Regions from separate parts of the Homo sapiens genome. Here all the other regions are linked to region 1. The links come from fine-mapping of genetic effects on gene expression. A gene starts in region 1. Each other region holds a variant in brackets. All regions are shown on one strand. Distances are from middle to middle. Region 1 holds the start of GGTA1 (glycoprotein alpha-galactosyltransferase 1 (inactive)). Region 2 overlaps GGTA1 (glycoprotein alpha-galactosyltransferase 1 (inactive)). Region 3 overlaps GGTA1 (glycoprotein alpha-galactosyltransferase 1 (inactive)). Region 4 holds the start of STOM (stomatin).

The links. PIP is the estimated chance that this variant, and not a neighbour inherited with it, causes the effect.
Region 2: its variant is fine-mapped to the expression of GGTA1 in left ventricle (GTEx, PIP 0.97).
Region 3: its variant is fine-mapped to the expression of GGTA1 in monocytes (TOPMed, PIP above 0.99).
Region 4: its variant is fine-mapped to the expression of GGTA1 in whole blood (TOPMed, PIP above 0.99).

What each region holds. Positions count from the first base shown.
Region 1 is chr9:121,495,828-121,503,930 of GRCh38, reverse strand. It overlaps GGTA1 (glycoprotein alpha-galactosyltransferase 1 (inactive)), which reads left to right and starts at 4,087. Exons shown (of 6, transcript NM_001382585.1): 1 at 4,087-4,281. RefSeq lists silencers at 4,038-4,137, 5,487-5,781.
Region 2 is chr9:121,458,591-121,466,693 of GRCh38, reverse strand. GGTA1 (glycoprotein alpha-galactosyltransferase 1 (inactive)) reads left to right here. Exons shown (of 6, transcript NM_001382585.1): 3 at 3,366-3,401; 4 at 5,377-5,442; 5 at 6,475-6,590. It overlaps LOC102723324 (a long non-coding RNA gene), which reads right to left. Exons shown (of 7, transcript NR_187160.1): 6 at 3,924-4,037; 7 at 3,323-3,703. Among named protein-coding and RNA genes, the nearest start is that of GGTA1, 37 kb to the left of the region's middle. The variant G/A (reference allele first, on the strand shown) is at 3,374.
Region 3 is chr9:121,474,583-121,482,685 of GRCh38, reverse strand. All of the region lies in intron 1 of GGTA1 (glycoprotein alpha-galactosyltransferase 1 (inactive)), which reads left to right. Among named protein-coding and RNA genes, the nearest start is that of GGTA1, 21 kb to the left of the region's middle. The variant G/A (reference allele first, on the strand shown) is at 4,122.
Region 4 is chr9:121,366,537-121,374,639 of GRCh38, reverse strand. It overlaps STOM (stomatin), which reads left to right and starts at 4,390. Exons shown (of 7, transcript NM_004099.6): 1 at 4,390-4,513. The coding sequence starts at 4,453. It overlaps LOC102723324 (a long non-coding RNA gene), which reads right to left and starts at 4,747. Exons shown (of 7, transcript NR_187160.1): 1 at 4,674-4,747. RefSeq lists enhancers at 3,876-3,965, 3,425-4,385. The variant A/G (reference allele first, on the strand shown) is at 3,700.

The DNA.
Region 1 (8,103 bases):
TTCCCTGCCCCGCACCCCTTCCAAATGCTGTCTGTTCATTCCACTTCCTCCAAGACTCTACTCTCACGTTCCCTTCTGCTTCTCCGGACCAACCTTACCACTCCTGGGAATTTCTTTAAAACACCTCCCCCCAGGCCCCCAAGACCTAGGAGTTTCCCCACCTGCGTGGGGCTGAGAAGCAAGTGAGAGAGCTATGGGAACAAAACCTAGCTCTGCAAATGCCAAGCTTGTGATTGTGAGGAAGTCACTGCCATCTGGATCTCGTTTCCTCATCTATAAATTGAGGGCTGGGACTGGCCATCTCTCAGGGTTCCTGGGCTGTGTGTTTTTCTAGTTCTGTGGAAGTTTTGCACTTCCTTTATCTGGTATTTCTGTGAAAAAGGCTCATCAGACTTTGGGGAAATCGATCCTCCCCCTGCCTCCCAGCTCACTGTTACTGACATTTCTCTTCCCCACCAAGATCTCAAGGAGGGCATTTTCCCTGCCAAGAACATTCTGGAAGTGCATTCCAAACCCTGCCTGCCAGAGGCCACCTCACCTTGGTGTTTCTGACATGGAGAATCTGAGGAAGAAAGGGGAGGACAGAGGGAGGACAGGGTGAGAGAGGATGGGAAGAGGAAATGCAAGAAATGCAAGAGGTGGTTATCCAAGTCACTGGGGAGGGCCTACCAGTAGTAGGCTCCAGGTGGGCTTAACAGAAGTGTTAGGCCAGGCGTGGTGGCTCAAGCCTGTAATCACAGCACTGTGGGAGGTCAAGGTGGACAGATCACCTGAGGTCAGGAGTTTGAGACCAGCCTGGCCAACATGGCGAAACCCCGTCTCTACTAAAAATGCAAAAATTAGCCAGGCATGGTGGCATACAACTATAATCCCAGCTACTCAGGAGGCTGGGGCAGGAGAATCACTTGAACCCGGGAAGTGGAGGTTACAGTGAGCTGAGATCGAGCCAGTGCTCTCCAGCCTGGGCAACAAGAGCGAAACTCCATATCAAAAAAAAAGGAAGTGTTACCGGTGGAGGGTGTGTAGGTTCTTGGCATTCTGAGCAAAGAATTGGACAAAAATGCAGAAACAAAGCAAGGAAAAAATGAAGCAACAAAAGCAGAGATGTAATGAAAATGAAAGGCGGAGGTTGCAGTGAGCCAAGATCATGCCACTGCACTCCAGCCTGGGCCATAGAGCGAGACTCTGTCCCAAAGGAAAAAAAAAAAAAAAGACAACCTCAGAACTGAAATGTGATCCTGGGAAGGCTACCAAACATGTAAAAGGTTTACAAAAATTTGCATTGTCATGAATTATTATAATCTTTTATAAGTCATTCAACCAGTTTGCAGAGAGAGAGAGAGGGGCCAGAAGTCCAACTGGTAGGAAATTCTTACCCTAGGCCAGCGCGGTGGCTCACACTTGTAATCCCAGCACTTTGGGAGGCCGAGGTGGGTGGATCACGAGGTCAGGAGTTCAAGACCAGCCTGGCCAAGATGGTGAAACCCACCTCTACTAAAAACTACAAAAAGTAGCCGGGTGTGGTGGCAGGTACCTGTAATCTCAGCTACTCCGGAGGCTGAGGCAGGAGAATCACTTGAACCTAGGCGGCAGAGGTTGCAGTGAGCCGAGATCACACCATTGCACTCCAGCCTGGGTGACAGGGCGAGACTCCATCTCAAAAAAAAAAAAAAAAGAAAGAAATTCTTACCCTATTGTTGGCATGTTAGGTTTCTGGGTTCTTTCTCCTTGAGCGGCCCAAATGATGCTGCTCGACTGTATGCAAACAAACACATTGCCATGAATTAAGAATATTCCAGTGGCTCATGCCTGTAATCCCAGCACTTTGGGAGGCTGAGGCAGGCAGATCACGAGGTCAGGAGATTGAGACCATCCTGGCTAACACGGTGAAACCCTGTCTCTACTAAAAATAAAAGAATTAACTGGGCATGGTGGCATGTGCCTGTAGTCCCAGCTACTCAGGAGGCTGAGGCAGGAGAATCCCTTGAACCCAGTAGGTGGAGGTCAGGCTGGTCTTGAACTCCTGACTTCAAGTGATCCGCCCACCTCGGCTTCCCAAAGTGCTGGGATTACAGGCGTGAGCCACTGTGCCCGGCCTAACCATGTTTTTAATAGCCAGTGAGCATCAGGTGCTCACCTAAACATAAGGAAGGATATCAAAGTTAAATACATAGCTATTTTTGCCAACAACTCAGAAGATTTAGCTAATAGTATTAAATTAACTCTCATTTGTCAAAAAAAAAAAAAAAGCACGCAAACCAAGATCATTTTGTTTTGGCTGGGTTTATAGTTTTATAACCTTCTATGCCAAACTCTGACACCTCAAAGTATTTAGCAGAGACAAATATAAAGTCCAGACAAAAATGTATGCTGACAATTCTGAAAGCATTTCTATTTTACCAATAATTTTAAAACCAGCCTGTTTATTAAAGTTATACTTAAGTCATATGAACTTGAAAATTGCTTAGACTTATTTAGTTAATTTATGAGCACTCTTTTATTTATATGCCAATTTGGTAGGCACAAGATATAACAGTAAGTGTACCTACAAATAAACACATCTAGACATGTATATACCGACACAAACAAAGATCCAATAGCTTGGAACTGTAGCCATGAGATAGCAATACAAGCTCGCTGGTTTTACTTTGTTTGCCCCAATAGATAATCCAATGAAGGCTGTGAACTAAAATTTTGGGTAAAGTAGTTTTCATGGCAGTTTGATTTTTTTGTTTGTTTGTTTGTCTATTCATTTAAGACTGAGTTTCGCTCTGTCACCCAGGCTGCAGTGCAGTGGCGCAATCTCGGCTCACTTCAACCTCCACCTCCTGGGTTCAAGTGATTCTCCTGCCTCAGGCTCCCAAGTAGCTGGGATTATAGGCGTGTGCCACCATGCCCAGCTAATTTTTTGTATTTTTAGTAGAGACAGGGTTTTACCATGTTGGCCAGGCTACTCTCGAACTCCCGACCTCAGGTAATCCACCCATCTTGGCCTCCCAAACTGCTGGGATTACAAGCTAGAACCACCTCGCCTGGCCTGGCAGTTTGATTTTTATTTGTATTTATTTTTTATTTTTTCTTTTCTTTCTCAGTCTCCAGCCTCCCGAGTAGCTGGGATTACAGGTGCACGCCACCAGGCCTGGGGAATTTTTCTATATTCTGTAGAGACGGGGTTTCGCCACGTTGCCCAAGCTGGTCTGGAAATCCTGAGCTCAAGCAATCCGCCCACCTCGGCCTCCCAAAGTGCTGGGATTACAGGCGTGAGCCACCGCGCCCGGCCGAATTATTTAAGAAGCGAATTTCTTAGTCTATGAAAATGACGTTCAACGGCAAATGGCAAAATGAAGTTCTGACTTTTCCACCTGTAAAGTAGATTGATATGAGCGGGAGTGAGAAGACCTTGTCGCTATCAGTATAAGACAAGAGAACTGAGGGCAGCCAGTTGTGGCCACAGCAACTCTCTGAGTGAATTGCTGCCACACTGGGCACAGAAGCGCACACTCTGAAATCGAATGTTTGGATTCCTTTCTACATAATTCTACTAAAGAGTTATTCCACAGCCTAGGGGCTGCCTTAGAGCCCCGTTTGAGACACTCTGGGCTCACAGATCATGAAGTCAGTGCGCAAACGCGGGCAGACCCTGAACCAGGTGCCCAACGCCCAGCCCTCACTTCCAGAGCTCAGGACTCTCGCAAGAGCGACTCCAGCCCCGGCCTGCCGCTGTCTACATTCGCGCTCTTCCTTCCTCGGGAAACAAACGGTGGATCAGATCTCCAAGGCTCTGAGTTTCCCAGAGTTTGGCCGTGCGCCAGCGCAGCGCAGCCCCTCCCAGCAGCACAGCACAGACCCCACCCCATCCTCCAACGCCCGGGGTTCCTGCTCTATCACCTACACCACCACCACCACGTGCAGGCCCGAGAAGGCAAAAGAGGCCCAGCCACTCTCACCGGGGATTTTATCCGCCTCCCCGGCACACACACACTCTCACTCACGCACTCGCTCGCCGGCCTTCCAGCTGTCTGTGTCCGGGGCGGGGACCGGCTTGGCGCAGCCCGCTGTCAGCGCTCGCCGGCTCCTCGCGCCCCTACCCGCTGCGCTCTGCCCAGAGCAGAAGCCCGGCCGGCCGGCCCACGGGCGGGAGGACGCGCCTCCGCTCGGGCGGAGGCGGCGCGGTGGCTGATCAGAGCGCGTAGGGCTTCGCCGGGGCCGGGAGCTGGGCGCGGTCCTGCTCAGCCCAGCTCACCGCGCGCCGGCCCTCGGCGCCCTGGTTCTGCGGATCAGGTGGGTCCCGCGGGGAGCCGCCCAGGTCCCCGGAGGCCACGAGCAGGACACGGACGGGGGGCTCCGCGCTTGGGAGAGGGTGGTGAGGGAGTGGAGGCGGGCCGCTGCTCCGGCGCTGCCCGGTGTCTGCCCTGCCTGTGTCCCTGCTTTTGTTCTTGTCGCTACCTCGGTGCCAAATCGGACCCAGTTTCTGTCCCTCTGTCCCCATCCTGTGGCCGTCCCTCCCTCTGTCCAGCCTTCCAAGACTGGAGCCTGAAGAGCTGCAAGCTGAGGTTCCCCCACGGGTCCGCGGGGTTGGGGTGGGGGAAGAGAGGGGAGACGCAGGGGACACAGGATGCGACCAAGTAAGTCGCAGTGAGTGAGGGGTCTGTCCTTGCCTGTGGGGCAGGACAGAGGAATGGCTCTTGCCCAGGACAAGATAGGAAGGGCGCGCCTCTGGGAAGGGGAATCTGGGAGTGGGGGGATAAAGTGAGGGTCGCAGGAACCCCAAGGAGGAAGGGAATAGAGAGGGAGATGTCAGAGAGCTTCGGAGAGCCGAGGACTCAGTCAGACGCCCAGCATGGGGAAAGTTTCCGACACTAACTTTGGCATCCGGGGTGCCTGCAGCACTGGGGCGATGGGAGGCGGGAGTTTCCTCCAACTCTTCAAACCTTGCTCCTACTCGAAAAGGACACCACCCCGCGTTTGGAAATGGCAGGAAAACGGCTAAACACAATGATTGCACAAACTCTTGAAGAAAGTAAAAAAAAAAAAAACAGTAAAAAGAAGAAGAAAAAAATGTCAGCGCGCAAAGAGCCAGAGAAGCAGAGGGATTTGAGATTCCTCGATCTTCCCGCTGTGGCGGCCGGGAGGGACTGGGAGGCGCGGAGGGTGTGAGAGCCGCTCCTCCGGCAGGAAGGAACCGAGACCCGAGGCAGGTGTTTTGAGGCTTTGCTCTTCCTTTGCACTCCTTCGGGCTCCTGAGCAGGCCGGGCTGCCTCCTTCCTTTACCTGGAAACAGGCGTGTCTGAGGAAGCAGGAGATGTAGGGTGCAGCCCTGGCCTGCCGCTTGCTGCCAGTAAGGAACCACCTTCCCAGACAGAGCCTCAGTTTCCCCGATTGTGAAATAAGGATACTACTGGAGACCTTCCTTCCAGTCTCTGAGTAAGGAAATGCAAGTGCATGGCGAAGGAGGGCTCTGGGAGTGGGGGGTGTGGAGGACAGGGTTATTCTGCTGCATTTCTGTGCTTCTTTGACTACATCAGGCACTTTCTACCTCTTTCGGAGTTACATCTGGGTGAATTTTGCCTCCTCTACCAGATGGGGGCAGCATGTGGATCTAAGTTATCTCATTTACATGTAACAGGTGCTCAATGACTGAATAAGGCAGAGCTGAACGAGTCCCTAGGGATTGCCCAGTCCAGAAGTTTCAACTCTGTCCTGTAAGGCCCGGCATCCTGCCTCAAGGGCCACCATGGTAGGGGAGGGGAACCTAGAGGACAGGGCTCTGGCCCCTTCCCTATCTTATTTCAGACAGAACCAGTTCTGTTCTTCCTTTATCTCCTCTATGTATTGGGAAACTCCTGAGAACGTTTTTGATGTCAGATTGCTCAGATCCAACCTGATCCAGTTTTTGGTGGAGTAGCTGAGGTCCAGAAGTGTGCAACGTGATTTGGGCAAACTTCTCTAGTGGCCACACCTTACCAGGAGACCTGTCCCCTAAATCATAGGCTAGGAGCTGCCTTTGTCTGGCCATGGTGGCTCTGAGCAGCCATTTCCCCAGCTCTTACCACCAGCTCTCCTACACTCCAACTCCAGGGCCACAGGGCTGCCTTCTGGCCCTTCTGGGAGAAGAAGCCTGTGAATCTCATCCTCTGAGCACTTCCAGACCTTTAGTGGGACCATTTATGTGAGTTGGTCTCACAGGTTGAGGTAAAAAATAATGAGGTTCCCTGGCCCAACTGAGTAGACTAGGTACCTGCCTGTGTCCCTGCTTTTGTTCTTGTTGCTACTTCTATGTCAGAACGGACTCAGTCTCTGTCCCCATTCTGCGCCCGTCCCTGCCTTCGTCCAGCCTTCTAAGACTGGAGCCTGAGGGGCTGTGGGCTGAGCAGCCCCTCAGGCTAACCCATTTTCTAGTTGAGGAAAGGAAGGCTGAGAGAGACCAAGAAACATATGGGCACTCAGCAACTAAATGGCAGCTAGGATTTGAATGCAGTTCTGGCTCTAAGGTTGGTGCTTTTTCCATTACATCACCTCTCATGATGGCTAAAAAATGGCTAATGGACAAATGTCATGGAGACGGGGCAGAGGTGAGGGGAGAACAACCGAAGGAGGGGGCAGCTTTCAGTAGGGGACTGGACATTAATAGAGGTATAAACTCATAAATATAATTTTATCTGAAATGAATGTACTCTTTGCCCTGTACTTTCCTTTTATTTTAGGTTGGATATGTAAAACTTATTTTCTTTCTTTTTTTTGAGACAGTCTCCCTCTGTTGCCCAGGCTGGAGTGCAGTGATGCTATCTTGACTCACTGCAACCTCCACCTCCCAGATTAAAGCAATCCTCCCACCTCAGCCTCCCAAGTAGCTAGGATTACAGGCGTGCACCACCATACCCAGCTAATTTTTTAATTTTTAGTAGAGACAGGGTTTCACCCTGTTGGCCAGGCTGGTCTCGAACTCCTGACCTCAGGTGATCCACCCACCTCCGCCTCCCAAAGTGGTAGGATTACAGGTGTGAGCCACCATGCCCAGTTGTAAAACCTACAAATCTTACGTGTTTGATTTGACAACTCTTTTTTTTGTTTGTTTGAGACAGAGTCTCATTCTGTCTCCCAAGCTGGAATGGTGGGATCTTGAATCACTGCAATCTCTGCCCCCTAGGTTCATTCAAGCGATTCTCTCTCTCTTTTTTTTTTTTTTTTTTTTTTTTTTTGAGATGGAGCCTTGCTCTGTCACTCAGGCTGGAGTGCAGTGGCATGATCTTGGCTCACTGCAACCTTTGCCTCCCGGGTTCAAGCGATTCTCCTGCCTCAGCCTCCTGAGTAGCTGGGATTACAGGCACCTGCCACCACACTGGCTAATTTTCTTTTGTATTTTTAGTAGAGTTGGGGTTTCACCATGTTGGCCAGGCTGGTCTCAAACTCCTGACCTTGTGATCTGACCACCTCAGCCTCCCAAAATGATGGGATTGCAGGTGTGAGCCACCACGCCCGGCCTACCTTCTATTTTTTACGATTGAATTTTAAGAGTTTTTGGAGAAAATAACATGAGTCAGGGCAGAATAGGGATATGGTGATATGGAGATGGTGATATGGAGACCATTATGGGCCAGGGCTTGGGAAGGAAAGAACCAAATGGTGGTTGGAATAATGACCTCAGGAATAGGGATTTCTGGGCACTAATATGTTATGTGAAAAATAAATAGACTTTTGTGGCCAAAAGCTAAGATTTGGGGGTTGTTTGTTATGCAGCATGGCTGCAGCAAAAGCTAACTGATACACATTATATAGATGCAATAAGTGCAGATTGTGATGAAACTTTCATGCCATGATAAGGAGTTGTGAGCAATGGGGAATCAACAGAGAAGTAAGGAAAATCACATAACAGGTTAGTCTCTATGGGTCAACTGGGATTTAAAGACCTGGTACTTGTACTCTGTGGGCCAGGCAAATTCATCCATGTTCATGGCTTTAAATGCTACTTCTGTAGCATTCATCTTATCTCAAACTTTGGGCATCTAATTCACATGTTTAACTGCCCAATGGGCATCTTTGTTTTGAATGTCTCAAAGGCACTGCAAACTCAACAAGTCCAAGCTAGAATTATCTTATGGTGGC
Region 2 (8,103 bases), 37 kb after region 1:
GGCGTGAGCCACCATGCCCGGCCTCTTTTGATTCTTAAATTCTAAGATTTGATGATCTAGGAGGACTGTCTTGGTTACTAAAAATGGAACCGTGCCTTTAGGTGCATCAGTAGCAGAAGAACTCTCCGAATGCTGGAGCCATTAGTCCCTGTGGTGCTGCACAGATGTAACCATTTCTGGAATGTTGCTTTGTTTCATTCTGCACAACTCATTTTAAGAAAAACATGACAAACTAGAGTGTGACCAAGTTAAAAGGGTCTGGAAACTAGGTCTTTTGAATTGAGAAAACTGAGGGGATTTAGTTCAAAGAAGAGATGACTCAGAGTTTTGTGTGGGGACCCTGGAACTCTCTTAGGCAACTGAGGGCTGAGGACGTTTCCCACTCAGACTCTAGAGCTAGGCTGCTCCTTGGGCAAGTTGCTCAGCCACTCTGTTCTTGTTTAGTTTCCCTATCTTTAAAAATTGGGGATAATAGGCTGGGCATGGTGGCTCACACCTGTAATCCCAACACTTTGGGAGGCCAAGGAGGACAGATTGCTTGAACCCAGGAGTTCAAGACCAGCCCTGGCAAAATCGCAAGACCCTGTCTCTACAAAAGTAAAATTAAAAAGTTAGCCAGGCATGGTGGTGCGCACCTGTAGTCTCAGCTACTTACGACGCTGAGGTGGGAGGATCACTTGAGCCTGAGAGGTTGAGGCTGCAGTGAGCTGTGGTCCTGCCACTGCACTCCAGCCTGGGTGACAGAGTAAGGCACTGTCTCAAAAAAAAAGTTGGGGGAGGGATTATAATAGTACCTGCCTCATAGGGTTGTTGGGAGAATTAAATAAGTTATTGTGTATAAAGCACTGGGAAGCAATGCCTAGGGCTTAATAAACAATAAATGCTAGCTGTCATCCTCCTCCTCCTCTTCCTCATCATCATTTTAGTTCAGGCCACTATAACAAAGTACCACAAGGTGGTTTAAGCAACAGGAATTTAATTCTTTCAGTTCTAGAGGCTGGGGAGTCCAAGATCCCCAGTGAGGGCTCTTCCTGGCTGGCAGATGGCCACCTCCTCCCTGTATCCACACGTGATGGAGAGCAAGTAAGCTACTGCCTCTTCCTCTTCTTGTAAGGACACTAATTCCTTCATGGGGGTCCTACTCCCACGACCTCATCTAAACCTAATTACGTCCCAAAAGCCCCACCTCCAAATATCATCGCACTGAGGGCAGGGCCTCCACATACGAATTTTGAAGAGATACAACATTCACTTCGTAACAGTCATCATCATCATGATCTGCTCCAGAGGGCAGAACAAGAAAGATTTTGGTAAATAGAAGAGCTCTAGCAGTTGGAAGAGTCCAACAGAAGAACAAGTACCCTTTGGGGTTCCTGCCTGGAGTCGGAATGTCTGCTTGGATAACCTTCAAGCTCTGAGTTTGAACACTTGATCAGATAACTTTGGTGTTTGGAATTGTAGCCAGAGTTGTATGTGCATAACTGAGCCAAAGGCTGAAACGTGCATGTATATACCAGCCTCTCTGGGCACACTCTCTCTGCATGGTAGCCAGAGCAGGTTCTGGCTGCTCTTCAGGCTAATCGTCTGGCACCTGGACTCTGGCCACAACATCCTCTGATGTGCAGAATCCACTTGAACATCTGCAAAAAACTTCAAGGGGAGGAGTTGTTTTTTGTTTTTTTTTTTTTGTTTGTTTTGTTTTTTTGCCACTTTACGAATTGGCCACATGATAGGTTGAGGTGAGCCGAGGACACAAACCTTACACAGGTAGGCAGCACTAAGCTAAAATGGATTAAAAATAACTAACTCAAGCATGTCAACCAATTAGTAAATAGAAGAATTGTCAGTAAAGCGTATTGAAAGAATATCATCTAGGATAGCATTTGATTTCAGGCTGGATGAAAAAATAATCTTCGAATTTTAGAGAATTAGAGGAAGCCTTCAAAATTATGATGAAATATTCATGATAGTGGTGATCATGATGGGAACTACAAGTTATTGAGGGCATGTGCCAGGACCCTTGCTATGCATTACCTCCGATTCTTTTTGTTTTGTTTTGTTTTGTTTTTGTTTTTGTTTTTGTTTTGAGATGGAGTCTCAGTACTTTGGAAGGCTGATGCAGGCACATCACTTGAGGTCAGGAGTTCGAGATCAGCCTGACCAACGTGGTGAAACCCCGTCTCTACTAAAAATACAAAAATTAGCCAGGCATGGTGGTGTGTGCCTGTAGCCCCAGCTACTCAGGAGGCTTAGGCAGGAGAATTGCTTGAACCCAGGAGGCAGAGGTTGCTGTGAGCCAAGATCGTGCCACTGCACTTTAGCCTGGGCAACAGAGCAAGACTCCATCTCAAAAAAAAAAAAAAAAAAAACCTCAAGGAGGCAAAAATTATGTTTGGCTTGGAGGAGGATCCATTGTTCTGCATCCATTCACAAATATTTATTGAGTATCCACTATGTACCAGGCACTGTGCTAGGATCATATCAAGCAAGGCATTGAAAAGGTGGCATTTGAGTGGAGGCTTAAAGCATGAATACATGTTTAAAAGCCACTGCAATGTGGATATTGCTGTGACCATTGTGCTGTTGAAGGATTCTGGAGAGGAGGGTAAGGAGAAGGGTTGTTGAGGAGATATGAAAAGTTGGTGAACCTGAATCTATAAATCCATGGCCTGAGTGCCAGGTAGGGTTATGCGTGCTAGGCTGCAGCACTTGTAGGGGCTTAAGAGTCTCACTGCCTTCATTAGTTAAAGAAATGCTTTTGGGGGCTGTTCTATAGAAGGCTCTGAGTTGGCCATGGCATTAGGCTCTGCAGTTGATGCTTTTTTTTTCTGGAGGAAGATAAATCCTGGGGGAAGGATGTCTGGGCCACGGCATTTCCGTCCTTTCAGGGCCTTCGTCATCACCAGGCACCTGAGTAGGTGGCAGGAGAGGACCCATCTCTGCAATGGAGAGCTGTCTTCTTTTTAAAAGAGCAAACAAACAAACAAAAACAAAACAGAATTTGAGGCCAGGAGTGATGACTCACACCTGTAATCCCAGCACTTTGGGAGGCCAACGGGGGTGGATCTCTTGACTCAGGAGTTTGAGACCAGCCTGGGCAACGTGACAAAACCCCGTCTCTACAATACACACACACAAACACACAATTTGAGATTTTGCAGAAAACTGTTTCCCCTTGAGATCCTGAAGTGGAAATTTCCATCCTCCTGATGTCATTGGTTATGTCTCAAAGGAAGGTAGAAACCAGGAAGCAGCTAAAACCCAGGCTCTTAGCTCAGCCCCGGGCTCAGTGATAATGGTTACAAAATCGCCTTTCTCAGAATTAAAAGTAACATGATATGTTTTTATTTCTTTTTTGCTTTTAGCACAGAAG[G/A]CTCTTTCTTGTGGATATATCACTCAAAGTAAGTGCTTTGAATTCTAGATTTCTAGGGGATGTTTCCCACAGCCACTCTGGCACCCCCTACAGTCCATTCTTCACACGGCAGCCAGCCATGGTGTTCGGCCAAAGTCGGAGGGGTGGGTGGGTGGATTCCTGGGGATCTGGAATGTTATTTCTGCAGCTTCCGTAGACTTATCTGTATAGAACCATGGCTTGTATCTTGCCCTCAGTTCTCCTCAAAGTTCTCTTAAGCAGTGTCATTTGGGGAACATTCCTGTCTTGCTGATAAAAAGTATCCGGGGAGATATTGTCTATTATTCTGCCCTTTAAATGTTATATAAAGACCCATATAAGAAATTGCTCTAAGAATAAAAATCAGGAAAAAAATTTGAGCCTCTTGAGAAACTAGTGTGTATCATTAAAATTTTCTTTTTGTATTTTTTGAAAAGAAAATGAGAGCCATGTAAACCTTTATATTTCCAATGGTTGGGTTGGTTGTCAGAAAGCTCAGAACAAAGTATTGCACTTAACTGCTTGTACTTACCCCAGCCTTCATTTCTGATATACTTTATCCCCTGGTGTGAAATCCCGGCTTTTGTGCCCACATGTCATGTGCCCTTGGAAATTTGCTGAAATCCACCCAGCCAGTATCTCAGCTCTGAAATGAAAGTAAAGGTGAAACTTTTCTTTGGGATGACTGAGGTCATGTGAAAATATATACCTGGGTGACGAAATCAATGTATCTCTTTCTGTTCTCTCTTGTGTTTTTTATTCTTGTGTTGTTTTTCTGTTTATTGTACCTACGTATTGGAAGCCATCTCAAACACTTCCAAGAGTTAATAGGCTTTAAAACAGATTTCATAATATTATGCCTGTTCATGAGTTAGCTCACCACCGTATTTGTCCATCGGACTTTCCTCTTTCCCCATCCTCCAGAAGGCACCCACCTTTTCTTTTCTTTCTTTTCTTTTTATTTTTTTTTAATTTTCTGAGACGGAGTCTTGCTCTGTTGCCCAGGCTGGAGTGCAGTGGTGCCATCTTGGCTCACGGCAACCTCCTTCTCCTGGGTTCAAGCAATCCTCCCGCCTCAGCCTCTTGAGTAGCTGGGATTATAGGCACCTGCCACCACGCCCGGCTAATTTTTTGTGTTTTTGGTAGAGATGGGGTTTCACTGTGTTGGCCAGGCTGGTCTTGAACGCCTGACCTCAGGTGACCAGCTGGCCTTTGCCTCCCAAAGTATTGGGATTACAGGCGTGAGCCACCGTGCCCGACCCCCCACCTTGAAGAGACTTTCACAATGAATGAGTGTGGAAACTTTCTCAAATGGGTGGCTACAGTGGCTTCTAAGTAGTTTCCTGAACTTCTTGCTCAGTGACCCTCAGATTTCCTGAGGCTGTTACTGCTAACCTTTGGGCAACCCAAATTTTTCTCTAGACTTTTACAACAATCTGAATTCTGCTGGTTTTAGCTAAAGAAACATGGAAACATGCATCGGTTTTTCATGAAGCGTATAACTTGTTACAGTCATTTTCAACTCATAAAGCTCTTATATGTATGCTATTTCATTCAGTCTTCAAAATTACCTTCATGGTAGGTCTGTTATTAGTACTATTAACTATACTTTTTGGAGGAGAAAGTCAAAATTCAGAGAGGGAAAATGTCCTATCACAGTCACACAGCTAGTAAGTGGCAGATCTAGAACTCAGGTTTATGCATTAATACCACCCCCACTCCAGCCCCCTTTTCCCTTCTCTTCCTCTAGGGCCCCCAGGATGAGCTGAGGGCTGGGGGCTACCCAAGGGAGGAGAGATTGAGGGAGTCTCAGGTCTGTTCTCTCTCATTCAGCTAGAGTGTCTCATTTCTGTCTGTTTTATAAATTGGCATTTTAAGGTTTTTTATTTTTTTAAAGTAATCTCGGCTATAGAAAGAATTTGGAAACCCTAAGTTTGGGGACACCACATTTTCTAAAAATATTTGTAAACTTTTTCATTTCTTAGAAACCCAGAAGTTGATGACAGCAGTGCTCAGAAGGGCTGGTGGTTTCTGAGCTGGTTTAACAATGGGTAAGGCGATCAGACAGCAGTCGGTGTTTGCCCACCCGCCTGGTGCTTGCAGAGGGTCCACACACAATGGTTTCATGTTCATGACCTTCTCAGTCACTCATCTTTCTTGCTTATTGAAATTATATGAAGAATATTTTGTGAGTGGGACTAGGACATTTGAGGGTTGGTTTTGTTTTTGAGACAGGGTCTCACTGTCACTCAGGCTGGAGTGCAGTGGTGCAAACATAGCTCACTGCAGCTTCAAACTCTTGGGCTCAAGTGATCCTCCTGCCTCAGCCTCACGAGTAGCTAGACTACAGACATGCACTACCACATCCAGATAAATAAGTCTTTTGTTTTGTTTTGTTTCAGTTAACTTGGGGGCTGAGGCTTGGGCTGAAGTTTATTTATTTATTTTTATTTTTTTGAGATGCAGTTTTGCTCTTATTGCCCAGGCTGGAGTGCAGTGGCGTGGTCTCGGCTCACTACAACCTCCACCTCCTTGGTTCAAGTGATCCTCCTGCCTCAGCCTCCCAAGTAGCTGGGATTACAGGCGCCCGCCACCACACTCGGCTAATTTTTGTATTTTTAGTAGAGACAGGGTTTCACCACGTTGGCCAGGCTGGTCTCTAACTCCTGACAGGTGATCTGCCCACCTTGGCCTCCCAAATTGCTGAGATTATAGGCGTGATCCACCATGCCTGGCCTGGGCTAAAGTTTAGATTGCAGGAAAGACAATCATAAACTAAAATGTTCTTAGAAGAATTGTCTTATCAAGTTTCCCTCACCCCCCCTGAAATAACCTGAGGGTTGCTGGGTCATTAAATTGTTAACTGTGGTGACTTGGAAGGGTAATGAGTTGAGTACTGCATCTTTTCATCAAAAATATGTCTTTATGAATAAACGCTTAGTGCCTAGAGCCTTTTTCTGGTCAGTTCACTTAGTGCATGCATAATCTGCCTTGGAACACATTTCCACAAGATATTCACCAGTTCTCTGACCACCGCAATCACCTTCCCTGCCTTACCTGGTTTACTTTCCCTTTGTACTTAGGATCCACAATTATCAACAAGGGGAAGAAGACATAGACAAAGAAAAAGGAAGAGAGGAGACCAAAGGAAGGAAAATGACACAACAGAGCTTCGGCTATGGGACTGGTTTAATCCAAAGTAAGAAAAGCGGCGTCACTCCCTGTGCAGCAAATCCATGGCCCTGCAGGGGGTGGTGTGGCAGTGGAGGCAACAGTGCCATTGAGAACATTCCTGATTTAGGAGAAAGAGCCTTAGCATATTAGACCTTTAACAGTAGACATATGTATATGTGCATCTATTTGATTGTGATGTAAAGTATATTTCTCACTGTGAGTTATGGTCAAAAACACTGTGCTAGGCATTGTGTTAGGGAGAGGAGACAGGAGAAATCAATCAACATGGTTGTATTTGAGAAGTTCATGGTCTCACAGGGGTCGTTACTGTGAAACTATTATTTGCCTAGATTGGTAGGAGGCAGGATCAACTGGAAGGATGTGGTTCTGGGAGTGAGGAGATGGGAGCTGTCCAGGGTGACTTTGAGACCTGAGAGACTGGTGGGTGATGGTGCCATTGGCCAGAAAGGGGACTGGAGGAGGAGACACAGGCCTCAGAGCTGGGGGAGGTGGGGACCTCCATTAGGAATGCATGTGGATGCAGGTGCTTATGGGACATCTGGACAGAGTCACAGGGTGCTCCTGAGCTTAGCAGATGGTATGTGCTGGAGATGTGCAATGAGGTATCATCAGAGTAATCAGGAGAGAATGGAATCCTTTTTTTTCATTTGATTTTTAATTTTTATTCATTTTGAGACAGGATCTTGCTCTGTCACCCAGGCTGGAGCGCAGTGGTGCAATCGTGGCTCACTGCAGCCTTGACCTCCCAGGCTTAGCCTCCTGAGTAAGGAGGCTTGGTGTGCGCCACCACGGCCAGCTAATTTTTAATTCTTTTGTAGAGACAGGGTCTTACTATGTTGTCCAGGTTGCTCTTGAACTCCTGGGCTTAAGTGATCCTCCCACCTTGGCCTCCCAAAGTGCTGGGATTACAGGTGTGAGCCACCATGCCCAGCCTGAAAATAGCATCTATCCCATTGTGAAGGAGCTTGGGCTCTGGAAAGACTGAATATGTTCTGGCAACTTCTCTTATTGTTTGGGGATAAGGGATCCATGCCAGTGTGAAGGGATGGGAATTTTGGCTTCCCATATGTCATTTGATGATCTGCACAACAGGGTAGGCATCTCTGAAATGCTAAACCACTCATAGAAATGTGAGAAGATGGAAGCATTGTTGCTTTGATAAAGCCCCTTAGATGGGGCAATGAGACTCCGCCAGGGACAGGCTAGATGGGCCAGAGATGGTCCCCAAAGTCCCTTCTAAGGAGAATGGGGCAATTTTACTGTGGTACTTGTTCTTTGCTGAGCAGGACTTGGGAGGTGGGGCTGGGGCTGAATGACTGGGGGCAGAGAGGAGGGACAGACCATAGTCACCAGCTTTCACCCTCTTCACTCTTCCCCTTGCATGGCTTCATCTCCAAATGAGTAGGGAGCAGATATTTATTTTTAATTTATCTTATCTTATCCTTTATTTATTTATTTATTTATTTATTTATTTATTTATTTGAGACAGGGTCTCATTCTGCCACCAGGCTGGAGGG
Region 3 (8,103 bases), 21 kb after region 1:
GCAATTCTCCTGCCTCAGCCTCCTGAGTAGCTGGGATTGCAGGCGCCCACTACCATGCCCTGCTAATTTTTATATTTTTAGTAGAGACAAAGTTTCACCATGTTGGCCAGGCTGGTCTTGAACTCCCAACCTCAGGAGATCCACCCGCCTCAGCCTCTCAAAGTGCTGGGATTACAGACATGAGCCACTGTGCCCAGCCGATTTTTTAATTATTTTTTTGAGACAGGGTCTCATTCTGTCTCCCAGGCCGGAGTGCAATGGTGCAATATTGATTCCCTGCAACCTCCGCCTCCTGGTCTCAAGTGATCCTCTCACCTCAGTCTTCTGAGTAGCTGGACTACAGGCACATGCCACTATGCCCAGCTCATTTTTACATTTTTTGTGGAGATGGGCTGTCACTGTATTGCCTAGACTGGTCTCCATCTCCTGGGCTCAAGGGATCCTTCTGCCTCAGCCTCCCAAAGTGCTGGGATTACAGGTGTGAGCCACTGTGCCTGGCCTCCTAGATTGTTTTAGCACAACAGATTGTCCCTGAGCCCCTCCTGAGGTGTTTGTGGTGCCTGGGATTGGGGAGGCAGGGCCCATCCAGGTCCTGTGGCCCTAGCGGGGAAAGACAGTGCCCAGGAGAGCTCAGCTCCCAGCAGGAAGATTTCTGATTTCTGTTACTTTTTATTCTTTTTTTTTTTTTTGAGACAGAGTTCCGCTTTTGTTGCCCAGGCTGGAGTGCAATGGCATGATCTCGGCTCACTGCAACCTCTGCCTCCCAGGTTCAAGGAACTCTCCTGCCTCAGCCTCCTGAGTAGCTGGGATTACAGGCATGCACCACCACGCCCAGCTAATTTTGTATTTTTAGTAGAGACGGGGTTTCTCCATGTTGGTCAGGCTGGTCTCGAACTCCTGACCTCAGGTGATCCACCCGCCTCAGCCTCCCAAAGTGCTGGGATTACAAGTGTGAGCCACCGTGCCTGGCCACTTTTTATTCTTTTTTTTTTTTTTTTTTTTTTTGAGACAGAGTCTCACTCTATCTCCAGGCTGGAGAGCAGTGGCGCAATCTTGGCTCACTGCAACCTCCACCTCTAGGTTAAAGCAATTCTCCTGTCTCAGCCTCCTGAGTAGCTGGGATTACAAGCACATGCCACCACACCCAGCTAATTTTTGTATTTTTAGTAGAGACGGCGTTTCACCATGTTAGGCTGGTCTCAAACTGCTGACTTCAGGTGATCCACCTGCCTCAGCCTCCCAAAGTGCTGGGATTACAGGCATGAGCCACCGCCCCCTGCCAGTTTGGCCTATTTTTGAACTTTAAATAAATGGAATCATCCAGTGTGTACCTTTTATGCTGGGTTTCTTTCACTCAGTGCTGTGTGTGTGAGATTTTCCTTGACGTGAGTAGCTGTAGCTCGCTCATTCTCATTGCTCTAGGTAGAATCCCATTGTGGGACTAGGTGATAATTTACCTGTTCTGATGATACGCCTTGGGAGAGCATCTAGTTTGGGGTGTGCTATGAATTTTTTTTTTTTTTTTTTTTTTTTGAGATGGTGTCTTGCTCTGTCGCCCAGGCTGGAGTGCAGTGGCGCGATCTCGGCTCACTGCAAGCTCCGCCTCCTGGGTTCAAGTGATTCTCCTGCCTCAGCCTCCCGAGTTGCTGGGACTACAGGTGCCTGCCACCACACCTGGCTAATTTTCTGTATTTTTAGTAGAGATGGGATTTCACCGTGTTAGCCAGGATGATCTCGATCTCCTGACCTCATGGTCCACCCGCCTCGGCCTCCCAAAGTGCTGGGATTACAGGCCTGAGCCACTGCACCCGGCCAACTATGAATATTCTAATGCCTGTGTCTTGGTGAACATCCACACACTTTCGTTTGGGTGTGGAACTGGGAGCAGAACAATAGGATAGGCAGGTGGGCATCTGTTTGGCTTAAATAGTTAGCCACAGGAAGGATTTAAGCAAGGTATTAGGAAGACTTCTGGACCCTAAAGGTTGTGGCCAAATAACTCATCCCCTTAAGAGGCGGAAGCTGTGAAATTTCCTTCTGGGGAACGGGAGGAAGAGGCTGGATTAGGCACTACTGAGCGACCGGGGGGCCAGTCCTTGATTCCTTCCTGTCTGGCTTTGGTCCCCTGTCTTTAGTCTGGGGTTTCCAGACTGTACTCCCTGGAGATGTCTCAGCCACGTGGGAGGATGAGGAAGGGGCTTTGAGCATCATTTCCCTGCTTTAGCCAAAGGACTCCGTGTGCTCTGTTTCAGGTCGTGGGGATTCTGAGAATGATTTTGTTTGCTTTTTGAAAAAGTTTTAGCTGTTTCGACATTGGAAAATCTACTGCCCACCGGGCATGGTGGCTCACACCTGTAATCCCAGCACTTTGGGAGGCTGAGGCGGGCGGATCACGAGGTCAAGAGATCGAGACCATCCTGGCCAACGTGGTGAAACCCTATCTCTACTAAAAATACAAAAAAATCAGCTGGGCGTGGTGGCATGTGCCTGTAGTCCCAGCTACTCGGGAGGCTGAGGCAGGAGAATCACTTGAACCCGGGAGGCGGAGCTTGCAGTGAGCCGAGATCACGCCACTGTACTCCGCCCTGGGCGACAGAGTGAGACTCCATCTCAAAAAAAAAAAAGAAAAGAAAAGAAAAAAAGAAAGAAAGAAAATCCACTGCCCCTAGGTCCCTTCCAGCTGCAAGATTCTATTTTGGGAGCAGGAGGTGGGTATGGGAAGGGTTAAGCATTATTCAGCCAGAGAGCGGAGTTGAGCCTTGGTGACCTTTTAAAGTTCTTGTAGTGTGCTTTGTGCTGTGGGAGATCCCGTAACATTCTATAAAAATGTAGTGTTCAAACCAAACAGCGACTTCTGAAGCCTAAAAGATGTAGAGGAAGGACTTAACTTTGAGGAACATTTAGGTAGAATTTCCACCAGTCTTGAGGACTCTCAAGATAGCCCTTTGTCCACTCCTCTGTGGTGTGTGTGTGTTTGTGTGTGTGTTTTAACGTCTCCATTGGCTGGTGGCTGGTCCTAGGAGCAGTCACTTGAAGTTGTTTGGGTCCAGAATGGTTTCCATTTTTATCCAGTAGTGTGTGATGTGGGCCCCCTTGGTGTCCCTCTCAAGGGTGGGTGGTGGCCTTTCCTCCTCCCATACTAGGCCCAGTTTGGACCATGGTTTTGCTTGGCAAGGAGGCTGGGCCGCTCATGGATCCAGAGAGGAACATTTCTGCCTTGGCACACAGCTCTGAGTCAACAGGCCTGATAAACAGCTCGTTTCCCAAAGGCCTGCAAGGAACAAAGCCCCTGGCTGCTGAGGGCTCTGTCTACTCCCCATCTCCTGAAACAGCTGTTTATTCTTTCGACAGGAGTTGAAACCAGCACCTTCCCTTTCTCTGAGTCCTGCCTCCTTCTGCAGAAGGGAGCTCAAAAGAACTTTGTTGTTTTGCCTTTTACTCTGGGGTGAAAGCGGCAGGAGGTATGTGAGATGGTGAAATGATTTGCTTCTGCCATGCTGGGGTCACGGGTGGATCGCCCTAAACTCTCGGTGGCCCCCTCAGTAGTTTTGGAAGAGGACCAAGTCCTTGTCTCTCCAGCAGTGGACCTGGAAGAAGGATGCCGGCTCAGGGACTTCACTGTAAGTTCAGCTTTATTTTGCTCCCCTGGTAGGACCTCACAGGGCTGCAGCCAAGCTGCAGCCTGGAGTTTTTCCTGAAGGATTTAAGTTGTTAATGCAGGAGCAGGGGGCAAGTCTTGGGGCTCAGGGTGAAGTTATGGATGGAGGCAGAGCCCTCTCAGAATTGTGTAGCATCTTTCATTTATCTTACTTTGGTTCTCTGGGAAAAACCCTTGCAGTGATTTCCAGACCAGGCAGCATGGAAAAGCTGGCTGGATTCAGCCTTTAGATTTCCCAAAGGGGATTCGAGAGAAAGCACTGTAAGATATACTTCAGAGAACAGGTCGTTCCATTTGAGATGGCTGGAGCGACAGTGGGCCATGTATTCAGTCTGAGACCTGTCTCTTATTTTCTTGTGTCTGTTTACTCTGACCCTTATAATGAAAAACAAAACTGGAGACAACCTTCCATGCACTTCCCCTGCTTCCCCGTGAATTGTATCGTGGAAGCATTTCCTTGTAA[G/A]ACCCACCAGCTCACTGAGGTTTTAGGATAATAAGGCACTCTTCCTCCTTACACCCAGCACCATCCCTATGCCAAGGGCTGGGCCTGGGAGGCAGGCATTTTAAATCTGGCACCAAGACTTCTGGGCATGCCCAGTGATCTCTGGCAAGCTATGCCCCTTTGCTAAAGCTCAGTTTCCTCAGCTAAAAAAGCCACACTAAGGCCACCGCACTGACCATTGTGAGGAATAAACAAGATGCTGTGAGTGAGGACACCCCACAACACGCACACAGAAGGTGCCTGGAAATGCTAGGAGAGTTGAGCTGATGCTCACCAGCTGGTCCAAGGAAGAGCTGGCCCCACAGCAATTAACCCATGCAGAAGACTTCATGTTTTCTAGAGCAACAGAGTGGTTAAAAGAGAGGGCACTAGAGCCTGGCTCCCTGGATTTGAACCCCAACTCCACCACCTTATGCTATGTGACACTAGGCAAGTTACTTCACCTTTCTGAGCCTCTGTTTTCATATCTGTGAAATGGGGATAATAATAGAGTAACTTCACTGGGTTGTCATGGGGCTTAACTAAGAGACTCCTGAAAAGGGGTTTAGCCCAGGGTCTGGCCTGGCCTGGCTTGACTGGGGAAAATACAGGTGTTGCAGGGTTTGAAGCTGATTCCATTTGGGGAGCCCTCTTTAAGAAGAAGAATGGGCTGGCCGTGGTGGTTCATGCCTGTAAATCCCAGCACTTTGGGAGGCTGAGGCGAGCAGATCACGAGGTCAGGAAATCGAGACCATCATGGCCAACATGGTGAAACCCCGTCTCTACTAAAAATTAAAAAAAAAATTAGCTGGGCGTGGTGGCGGGTGCCTGTAGTCCCAGCTACTCGGGTGGCTGAGGCAGGAGAATGGCATGAACCTGGGAGGCGGAGCTTGCAGTGAGCTGGGATTGTGCCACTGCACTCCAGCCTGGGTGACAGAGCAAGACTCCGTCTCAAAAAAAAAAAAAAAAAAAAGCAAGGTTGCAAATGCAATGTTAGGTATGAAAGTAAGTATCTGGAATATGAGAAGTGATATCACAACAAATAACAAAGACTGACAAACATTCCAAATATAACAAAATCCAGAAAACAACGACATAAGAAAATGATGTAAAACTAATACAAAAATGATTAGTATTACTTAACTGTCTGATACACCTGTCATGTTTGGGCTACATACTCTTTGACTGCCACATTATCTGACAACAGTTTTCTAGAATCATTTCCAATAAAAGAGAAAAGACAGATAAATCAGTTTTGCCTGTGGCATGGTTAATCAATGGGTGCTTTTTATTACTGAGAGTTTAGAGCAATTTATTTTAGCTTCCCAATTTGTTATTGGCGATGCCACTTCTCTAAGTCATTTGACAGTTTCTCAGGTGGCTCCAGCCAGATCATGAGAAAACTCAGCCCTGGATCCTTGCTAGGCACAGTGAGGCAGACGAACCTGGGTGGAGCACGAGGTGGCTGTGAGACCTGGATCATAGTGACCCCTGAGCAGGGAGCAGAGAGAGTAGTGTGTAGTTCATCTCCTTCTTCTTGAGGCCAAAGGAGGAGGGGCCCAGGTGCTCAACAAGGTCCACCTGGGACCGGTTGTTTCTGGGACCTAGGTGGGTGTGCAGGTAATGGGTCAGCACCCCAGCTCAGCCTGCAGCCCCTGGACAGGCACTGAGGCTAGAGAGTGACTCTCCCAGGCAAGGCAACACTCTACCTCTGGGAAGCATTTGGGGCTTTCTCATGCTCACCCTAATGGGAAATCAGGCCCAGTCTTGCAAAGGGGCTTGTGCACATGAGGACCCTGACACCTAAGCGTCATTAGCTCCTGGTAAGTCAGCCTCTGCATTCAGCGCATATTGGTTGGTGGTTCCTATGCATGATCTGAGCCAAAAGGCTGAGAAGTGATAGTTGATGAATCCTATCATTTGATCATCACACCAAGGGGCCCGTGTAGGTCACTGCAGCAGGGTGAGCTCTATGTGGCTAAAAGAACTGCCCTCAAAAAATGAGGTTTACATCCCTGAGGCTGATTTCTCATGCACATCCTGGGTTCATCAGAGAAGAACTGGGGATTACTGGGGAATCTTAGCTCCAAAGGACTTGTTTCTGGGCCAAGGAGTCTGAGGCCAGAGAAACTCGTGACGCCAGTTTAGAAAGCTGGCACTGTGTTGGTGCTGGGGCTGACCTGCAGGACTATGACAAGGCTGGGGACAGGGTGAGGCAGGGGTGGAGCAAGGAGGTGGGGTGGGGTGCAAATGGAGGTGCAGCTGGTCTGGTCAGAGCCGTGTTCCTGGGATAGAGCAGGGCATGGAGCTGACTTTATCACAACATGCAGTTGGCGTGTGGACTCGCTCCTGACTGTTCTGAGAGATGCTGCCCATCAAGATTCCCCTCTCAGATGAACTCACAGCCCTGCTTTCACACCAAGCTCTGAGCCATGCATTTCTGAATTTCTCCCATTAAAAAGCATCATCATTATTATAGGTACTGTGTGGGGGGCATTAACAGACCATGGGCACAGTATGCTTTCAAGAACCCTTTGAGGAGGGTGTTAGAATCTCCATTTTGTATATGTAAATAGAGGCTCAGAGTGTTAAAGTAAGTGGCCTAAGGTGTACATCTAGGACTCTGCTGATTTAAGAGTCTTTGCTCTTAGCCTAATTTTTACCTGGAATGCTGGAGCTGAACACTCTCCTTTATAATCAAGGATCTGGAGGACTTAAGACTAGAGTCTTGTCCAAGGTCAGTAATACCCAGTTAATTACTGCACCCTTCCCCATTCCCTTACCTGTTTTCCTTCTCTTTGTTCACTGTCACTACCTGACATTATATATCCTGTTGAGTCTCTTGACTCCCATTGGAACAGAAGCTCTATGATAATCTTGTTCAGTAAAGCATCTCCAGTTCCAAAAACCATCTGGAGCACAGTAGCCTAGTCCATGTTTGTTAATGAATCCATGGCAGAGCAGAACTGGAGTGCCTCAGAACTCTCCTTACTCATTTGTTCACCCCAAACACTTGTGTTACAGGAAGGGGGTCTGGATCCAGACCCCAAGAGAGGGTTCTTGGATTTCACTCAAGAAAGAATTGAGGGTGAATCTGTAAAGTGAAAGCAAGTTTATTAGGAGAGTAGAGGAATAAAAGAATGGCTGCTCCATAGGCAGAGCAGCCCTGAGGACTGCTGGTTGCCCATTTTTATGGTTATTTCTTGATGACATGCTAAACAAGGGGTGGATTATTCATGGCTCCCCTTTTTAGACCATATAGGGTAACTTCCTGACATTGCCATGGTATTTGTAAACTGTCATGGTGCTGGTGGGAGTGTAGCAGTGAGGAGGACCAGAGGTCACTCTCATCGCCATCTTGGTTTGGTGGGTTTCAGCCGGCTTCTTTACCGCAAACTGTTTTACCAGCAAGGTCTTTATGACATGTATCTTGTGCTGGTTTCCGGTTTCATCCTGTGACTTAGAATGCCTTAACCATCTGGGAATGCAGCCCAGTGGGTCTCAGCCTTATTTTACCCAGCTCCCATTCAAGATGGAGTTGCTGTGGTTCAAACGGCTCTGACACTTGGGATGCTCCTACTGGGAGCCAGGGCCTGTGCCAGTCTGGACCCATCACAATAGCCTGAAAGTGATTAAGGCTCAAGCGGAGGACGGGTGGGCTCTAGGGGCCTGATGTAGGAATCTCAGGCTGGGAGGAGAATTCTTTAGCCTGCGGAGAAGGCTTGGTTTCTCCTGCCACCACTTTCACCCTGCCGGATTCCTGCTCTCTGAGATAATGGCTTTTCCATGGCATCTGAGTGCATGGCATTCAGCTGAGAGGTTCACCTTTTCCCCTGGCACGAGATGGAGAAGATAGGATCTGCTAGAATTCCTTTCAGAGTGGAATTCTGTTTGGAACGAATTACCTTGACTTCGCCCTGTTGGGGTGGAACTGTGAGATTCTCAGAGGGTGTGTGTGTTGTTC
Region 4 (8,103 bases), 130 kb after region 1:
CGTGGTGGCAGGTGCCTGTAGTCCCAGCTACTCGGGAGGCTGAGGCCGAAGAATTGCTTGAACCCAGGAGGCAGAGGTTGCAGTGAGTCGAGATCATGCCATTGCACTCCAGCCTGGGTGACAGAGCAACATTCCATCTAAAAAATAAAAAATAAAAATAAAAAATAAAGGAAATATGGAACATCTACTCTGATTTTCAAACTATATATAAGTATCCTTCAAATAACAACTAGAGGAAAAATTCACCAAAATTGTAATAGCAGTTTTGTTAGAGGTGATAAGAAATTCTCTCTTCAAAGTACTCACAATTTTATATGTCTCCATTTAAAAAGCATAATGTTATTTATTTATTTATTTTATTTTATTTTTTGAGATGGAATCTCACTCTGTTGCCTAAGCTGGAGTGCAGTGGCATGATCTCCGCTCACTGCAACCTCCGCCTCCCGGGTTCAAGCAATTCTCCTGCCTCAGCCTCCCAAGTAGCTGGGATTACAAGCATGCGCCACCATGCCCGGCTAATTTTTTGTATTTTCAGTAGAGGCGGGGTTTTACCATGTTGCCCAGGCTGGTCTCAAACTCCTGACCTCAAGTGATCTGCCTACCTCAGCCTCCCAAAGTTCTGGGATACAGGCATGAGCCACTGCGCCTGGCCATAAGGTTCTTTAAAAAAAATCATTCTAACTTCTAATCATTACTGGGAGAAAATTTAAGATTAAAAATCCTCCAAAAGGAGAAAGGGATGTACTAATATTTGTTTTTTTCTAATCTTAAGAGTGAGAAATTGATTTTTAAAGTACATTTAATCAATACATTTATAACAGAATATGCACGAGAAAGCCAGAATACACCAATTTCATGGGCAAGTGAGAGTAAGCATATTTAAATAAAAAATTGGAAACTCTATTCTAAAAGCAGTTTAAAAATCAAGTCAAAGCTTGTTCTTAGTTTAGGGCCAGGAATTAGTTTTAGAACTGATGCAATCTGAAACCAGAGCCAAGAAGTGTTTACCAAAGTCTTTACCCCAAAGGGAGACACTTCTAATTCTCCAGAAGGGACACTACACTGTTAAGATTGTCTTGAGACTTGGGCTTAGGTAACTGATAGGGGTACACATATTAAATTCATTTTGAAATACCATTTTCCTTTCCAACAAAAATGAAACCTAAATCCTTTTTCACAATATGCAATTTGTAATCAAGGCCTCCTCTACCGAAGGGTTTAATTAGTTTCTTGTGTATTTGCTCCTCTTTCCTGGGAATGACAGGATAAACGGGAAGTTTATGTCTCCAGGGCTTATTCGTTACAGAATGGAAAAATGAAGCTATGGACTTTCTCAAGGATGATTTAGAGAGAAGGGATCATTAAATTACTGTACTCCCCTCCTTATCTTCTCCAGAAGGCTAACAAAGTGACTGCACAAGCTGCACTCCATCCCAGGAATACAAACAGTTCTTGGCCAGTATTTGACTAAAAGTCAACTGCAAGCTCTGAGTCAGGTTTTGATCACACACTGGAGCCTGTTCCTGCAAGCAAAGATCATCTTAATGCCTCTCTTAACACCTGTTGTGTCTGCTCCCGTTTCCGTCCTGATAGTCACAAAGCTCCAGAGCTGTAAAATCAGAGAGAAAGTCTACCATTTCATATGACCTAAGCACCACAAGGTGTTGGGTAGTACACAGCCAAATATTGAGCACATTAAGAAAGAAGTGCTCCTCCTGAGGGAGATCTTTGTGGTAATGGAATAGTTCTGTATCAATTACTGTGGTTATATCAATCTACACATGTTAAAATGGCACAGAACTATAAATACATTTTGTGCCACTGTCAATTTCCTGGTTTTGATACTCTAGTTAAGTAAGACGTAACTATTGGGGGAAACTGGGTAAAGGGGACATGTGACCTCTCTGTACTGTTGTTGCAAATTCCTGTGAATCTGTACTTATTTCAAAATCGAATGTTTTTATAAGTGCACCTTGTGTACATTAACATACTTTGAACATTGTGCAATAGAACAAGTCTAATGCAAACACAGCCTACTTTCCAAATATGAGGTCTTCAGCCACACCCCAAGAGAAGGCCTGAGGTTGGGAATGCCCTTGCACATGCTTTTCCCTCTACCTGGGATACCCTTTCCCACCTCCTGCACCGCTTATTCCCCTTCCCCAGGCTGGCTCCTTCTCATTTCTCAGGCGACATCTCAAAGCCCCTTCCTTACAGAGGTGTTCCCCTGTCCTAACCTTTGCTGTTCTCCGAATATTCCACTCCTTTCACAGCTTCCTTCACCATGTGTAATGATTCAATTACTTGTTTGTGGCCCATCTCCCAACTAGAGTATAAGGTAAACTCCACGAGGCCCTTAGCACACTCCCTGCCACATGGAAGATGCTCCAAGAAGATTTTGTTTGAATAAATGACCCCACCGACTGAATGGACTCCCTTGTGGCCAAGGGGACTCCAGAAAACTTTAAAACTGAGTTCCCAGCCAATGACAGGACAGAAGGTCAGACTCGCCTCATTATAACTTCATCGTATTGGAGTTTAGACACAACAGCTGACCAGCATTAACGTTAAAACACAGATCATAAGACTGACAGAACAGACTGTTTGTGACAATAAGATACCAAATTATAAACAAATTATACCTAAGGTCATGCCAGGCAAAGGTTAAGGCACACATCCCTTCACTTAGAGAATAAACTGTGTTCTAACTGCCACAAGGTTGTTCTCTTTCTCTAGCAGCTTAACAAGCACTGGCCTCGAGATAAGCAATATTAAAACAATTTGCAGCTCCACCAGATGTGGCCTAATGGAACCCCTATTCCACCAGCCATCATTACAGCTTTAATTGGACAAGAGGCTGATTTCAGTAACTTTCTCCTCATAGGAAAACTACCGACCATGGACTGGCTCTGGCTAGTTTACACAGACTGCATACTTGCACACCTTCCTGTCCTGAAAAGACCTTTTGACGCATGGGGTCTAACTGTAATACATGTATTGTTATTATTTTTTAGAGTCCATCAGGCTGGAGTGCAGTGATCTGATCATACATCACTGCAGCCTCCAACTCTTGGGCTCAAGTGATCCTCCTGCCCCAGCCTCCTGACTAGTTGGGACCGCAAGCACACACCACCCCACCTGGCTATTTTTTTTTTACTTTTTGTAGAGATGGGGACGTCACCATGCAGGCCAGGCATTTAACATTTAATTGGTAACTCTTCACTCCAAAATGAACATGGGTTGTATGTTACATGCATGTTTGCTCAATGGGCATGCGTCAGGACCACCCTCATGAATATTCATAGCTCCTCCTGTCACCTGCTGAATATGCATGTCTACCCAAGCTGTTCAGCATAAAGCCGCTACTCCAACCCCTCCTCCAACGAAATGCCTGTCTCTGGTCCTGGCCATTCTCCAGCCTGCGGAATGGCCACCTTGCAGGCTGTAACCCCTTACAAGAAATAAAGTCTCCTCTCCTGTTTTTTTGTTTTTTGTTTTGTTTTTTTGAGACGGAGTCTCGCTCTGTCACCCAGGCCATCTCGGCTCACTGCAACCTCTGCCTCCCAAGTTCAAGCGATTCTCCTGCCTCAGCCTCCCAAGTAGCTGGGATTACAGGCGCGCGCCACACGCCCGGCTAATTTTTGTATTTTTAGCAGAGACGGGGTTTCACCATGTTGGCCAAGCTGGTCTCGAACTTCT[A/G]ACCTCAGATGATCTACCCGCCTCGGCCTTCCAACGTGCTGGGATTACAGGCGTGAGCCACCGCGCCCGGCCTCCTCTCCTTTTCCAAATTTATACATTTTGATTTTCTTAACACACCTCACTCGAGTTCGTTCACTTCGGCTGCGGCGTGATCTGCCGGCCCTCTCAGCTCAGGCTGACCTCAGCGCCCTCACTTCGGCCACTTCTGTGTCCCTCAGTCTTCTCCCCTCAACTCGGACCTCGCGCCCTCATGACAGGGCGCCATTTTCTTCCCTCTAACTCCTCAGCCCAGAGGAGGCGCCTTGGTCCCGTACCTCTGCCCGGCAAGGCGACTTTTCTTCACTTGCACTTTTGCCTCGGGTCATCCTCTGCTGCTACCTCCCCACTATCCTCACCATCTGCTCCACGTCCCGTGGCTTCCGCCCTCCCTTCCGGTGCAGGGCCCCGGCCTCATACCCACAGCCTTGGGGGCTCTCGCCCCTCAGGCCACGCCCCTCAGGCCACGCCCCTCAGCCCACAGAACTAGCGGGAAGTGACTGCGAAGCAGTCGCGCCGTGGAGGGACAGGAGGGCGGGGATTGGGAGGTGGGTCCTCCTCGATCCTGGGCGTTGATTGGCCAACTCTCACGAGGGCGGGACCTCGATTGGGGGCGGGGCGGCAATCTGGGTCTTGTGCCTCTGGCTCCTCAGGGCATTCCCGGCGGCTCCGGGTTTGGCAACGAGGACGGGGGAGTGCGACTGCGTCTCGGGCAGCATGGCCGAGAAGCGGCACACACGGGACTCCGAAGCCCAGCGGCTCCCCGACTCCTTCAAGGGTGAGTCCCGCGTCCCCTGACCCTCCCCCGTGGACCGAGCCCCCGCCCGCAGCGTGCGCTCCGAGGTCTGACAGCCGGGCTCCTGGCCAGTCTCCGCTGCTTCGGGCTGGGCGAGATCTCAAAGCCGCGGCTCCTCCCTAGTAAACTGAGCATCACGAACCCTGTTTGGCAGACTGAGGTCACGATGGAGGGGTGGCGGGCTGCCAACGGCACGTTTCCCATCGCACGGGCCCTGGTTATCTCGCGGCCGCCAGATGCCAAGCCCCATGCCAGGGCTGCACTATCTCGTGTCACGCACGCGGACTAGGAAACGCAGAGGGAACTGGCAGCCAGCGAGGCGGGGACCGGGACCCCACATCTCACCCTTTGCCCACTCCCCTTCTTTCCCGACTCACTCTCTCGAAGGCCGCCTCCTCCACCCAGCCCTGGCCTGGCCCCAGGGTGAACCCCCTCCTCCCCCAATCCCACCTCCCGAAACTTAGACCGATTTGCAGAAGGAAGAAGTCTCTCTGGCTTTCTTCTTACCTCTCTTTCTAGCTCCACTTTCTGCCCCATTTTTCCCCCTCCGCTTTCCTCTGCGTTTTGGAGAACTCTCCTTCCCGGCTTTTGTTCCTCGCCAGGAACCCTGAGTTCTCCCACCCTCACCCCCACCCTCCCTTCCCAGTCTTCAAGGCAGGAGCTGTAAGTGGCTCAGTCTCGTTCCCCTGTGGAGGAACTGGTACTCTGGGGAGGGGGTTCCAATAAAGAGAGATGGTGGACCTCTCAGGAGTCCTGGTACCCACTCAGGAGCTCTTAGTGATCCAGAGGAATTACAGTGTTTCTAAAGATGGAATTTCAGGCAGGATGGCAGTGAAAGCAATTTAGAGGGCTGGGTGGTCCTTTCCAGGACCCCTCAAAGAACATGACATTGGAGTCATCTATTCTGATTATTTGTAAAGCCAGCTTTATCCACAGCATCTTAGCTATAAGTTCCATTTCCCTTGTCCAGGGATCCCTGTGTTCAGTTCCTTCCCAGGAGCATCAAAGGAATTACAGAAATCTTTATTCCTCACTTTTTGTCTACTAATAACGTTGCAGGTTATCTTCCCAAATGGAGAGTGTAACAGGGAGGAGTTGATGAGAATAATGGCAACCACAACAACAAAAATTGAAACTAAATAGGTCAGGCTCCGTATCACTTTTTTTTTTTTTTTTGAGACGGAGTTTCGCTTTTCTTGCCCAGGCTGGAGTGTGATCTCCGCTCACTGCAACCTCCGCCTCCCGAGTTCAAGTGATTCTCCTGCCTCATCCTCCCAAGTAGCTGGGATTACAGGCGTGCACCACCATGCCCAGCTGATTTTGTATTTTTTGTAGATACAGGGTTTCACCATGTTGGTCAGGCTGGTCTCAAACTCCTGACCTCAAGTGATCCACACGCCTCGGCCTCCCAAAGTGCTGGGATTACAGGCATGAGCCACCGCGACCCCCCCAGTGCCACGTATTTTATGTATATATTATTTTATTGAATCTTCACAACAGATGATGTGGTAGGTATTCTTATCCCCATATTATACTTGATGAAACTGATAGTCAAAGAAGTTAAATTACTTAAAGTCACTTAGTTTGTATTTAAATCTAGATTTGACTGATTCTAAAACTTGAATAGGGAAAAAATGGGTGGTAACTGCCTCTTCGATAGTTAGTTGTCTTTTCCTAGATAAAAAGGTGGGTATTAGCATGCATTCCTCAATACCCTGACCTCCTGGTGGGAAACTGCAGTGGCAAATCTGCTTGGAGTTCTTTGAGAATCAACATGATCTTTGTACTTAATGTTTATTTACAGACAAGTGGTCATAGATGAGTTTTTAACTTCCAGTTTTTTTCCTTGGTTCTACACTTAACTACTGTTTAGACAGAAATCTTTCAAGATCTAATGAAAACCACCACTTCCTCTCAAAAATTAGACATACAAATAAAATTTTGCATAGTCTGTGTTTTTTTAATGTAAACCTAACAAATTTGACGCTACTAGGAAAGGTATTGCTGGAATTTATTAAATAGAGGTTATTGAATGCTTTCCCTGTGCCAAAAGACAGTTTAAGTGCTTTACAAACATTATCTAATTGCATTCTGTAACAGCTCTACAAGGAAAAAGTCATTATTCACCATTTCACAATAAGGATACTGCGGCTCACATGGCAAAATCACAGTTTCTAAAATTTTCAGCCCTGTTTCAAACCCCGGCTATCTGATTTTCTGAATCATTTTCCCTATCCCAGAGATGGATACCAAAATGTAGAACCTTGTCTAACTTCAGTACTTTACTTAAGTTGAGAGACAATAAACAAAAAAAGCCTGGAGGAACACAGCTTCAGTGATGACTTCCAGAAGGCTGCTTGTGAAAGAAGCAGTGGAATTTTAAAAGCCTAAACTCTGCCTCTTTGTCTTTACTGAGAATTAGTCCTAGGTAGGTAAATAGCACCAGGCCTAGGGCAAGACTAGTTTTTCTTAAAGGCGATGCATTCACTTTGTAATGAAATAATGCAAGTAATTGCAAAGAATGTATCACTGTAATTAAGAGCCATGTCAACAAATAAAACCCTTTGGGAGACTGATTGTTTATTTCAGTTGTTATAGCCAATCAGATTGGAGAGAACTTTGTAACTTCTTCAATAATTAATCTGAGTTATTCCATCAGTGGTCATAAATTAACTTATGGAAGACCAAGTCTACAAAACTGGCATATTTATTCATGATTAAATAGATTTTTGGTGCCATTTGATGGTATAAATTTTACCTAGTAAAAGACAGTCACTGATTCCTAGTCATCTTTGAGGGAAAAAAAAGATGTTGATAAAGTGATACAGATGGAATTCAAAATCAGTTTTTTTAAGAAGGCATGGAAAAGCAATTTCCTGAAAACTATTGTAACTACAAAAAAAGTGAATACCCTTTCCCTGCGTCTGCCTGGTATCCTGTGCATATCTCTATCATAATGTTTATTACATAACATATTTATCAGTTTGACTCATCTGTCCCCTCCCCTCCCATAATTAAACTACACTTTTTCTTTTTGAGACCGGGTCTTGCTCTGTTGCCCAGGCTGGAGTGCAATGGTGCAGTCATAGCTCACTGTAGCCTCAAGTGATCCTCCCACCTCAGCCCCTCGAGTAGCTGGGACTACAGGTATGCACCACCACACCCAGCTAATTTTTTTTTTTTTTTTAACTCAGGGTCTCACTATGTTGCCCAGGCTGGTCTCGAACTCCTGGACTCAAGCGATCCCACTTTACCCTCCCAGAGTGCTGGGACAACAGGCATGAGCTACCAAGCCTGGCCTTTAGACCACACTTTTGAAAATAGAGATTGTGTCCTTCTTCACTGTAGTAGCCCAGTATCAAGTACATAGTAGGTATACAAAAACATTTGTTCAAAGAAAAAGGAAGCAGGCAGGGAGATAAAAATCCCCCTGGAGTAAATAACATTGTTAAGTGTTTGCCTTAGCCTTATGTTGGTGGAGCAGTTTTTCTGTTTACCATTTATTTTATTAAGTTTGTTATAACTTAAGCTGTTGATTTTAGGGCATGGCCATTATGTTTATTATATATTAT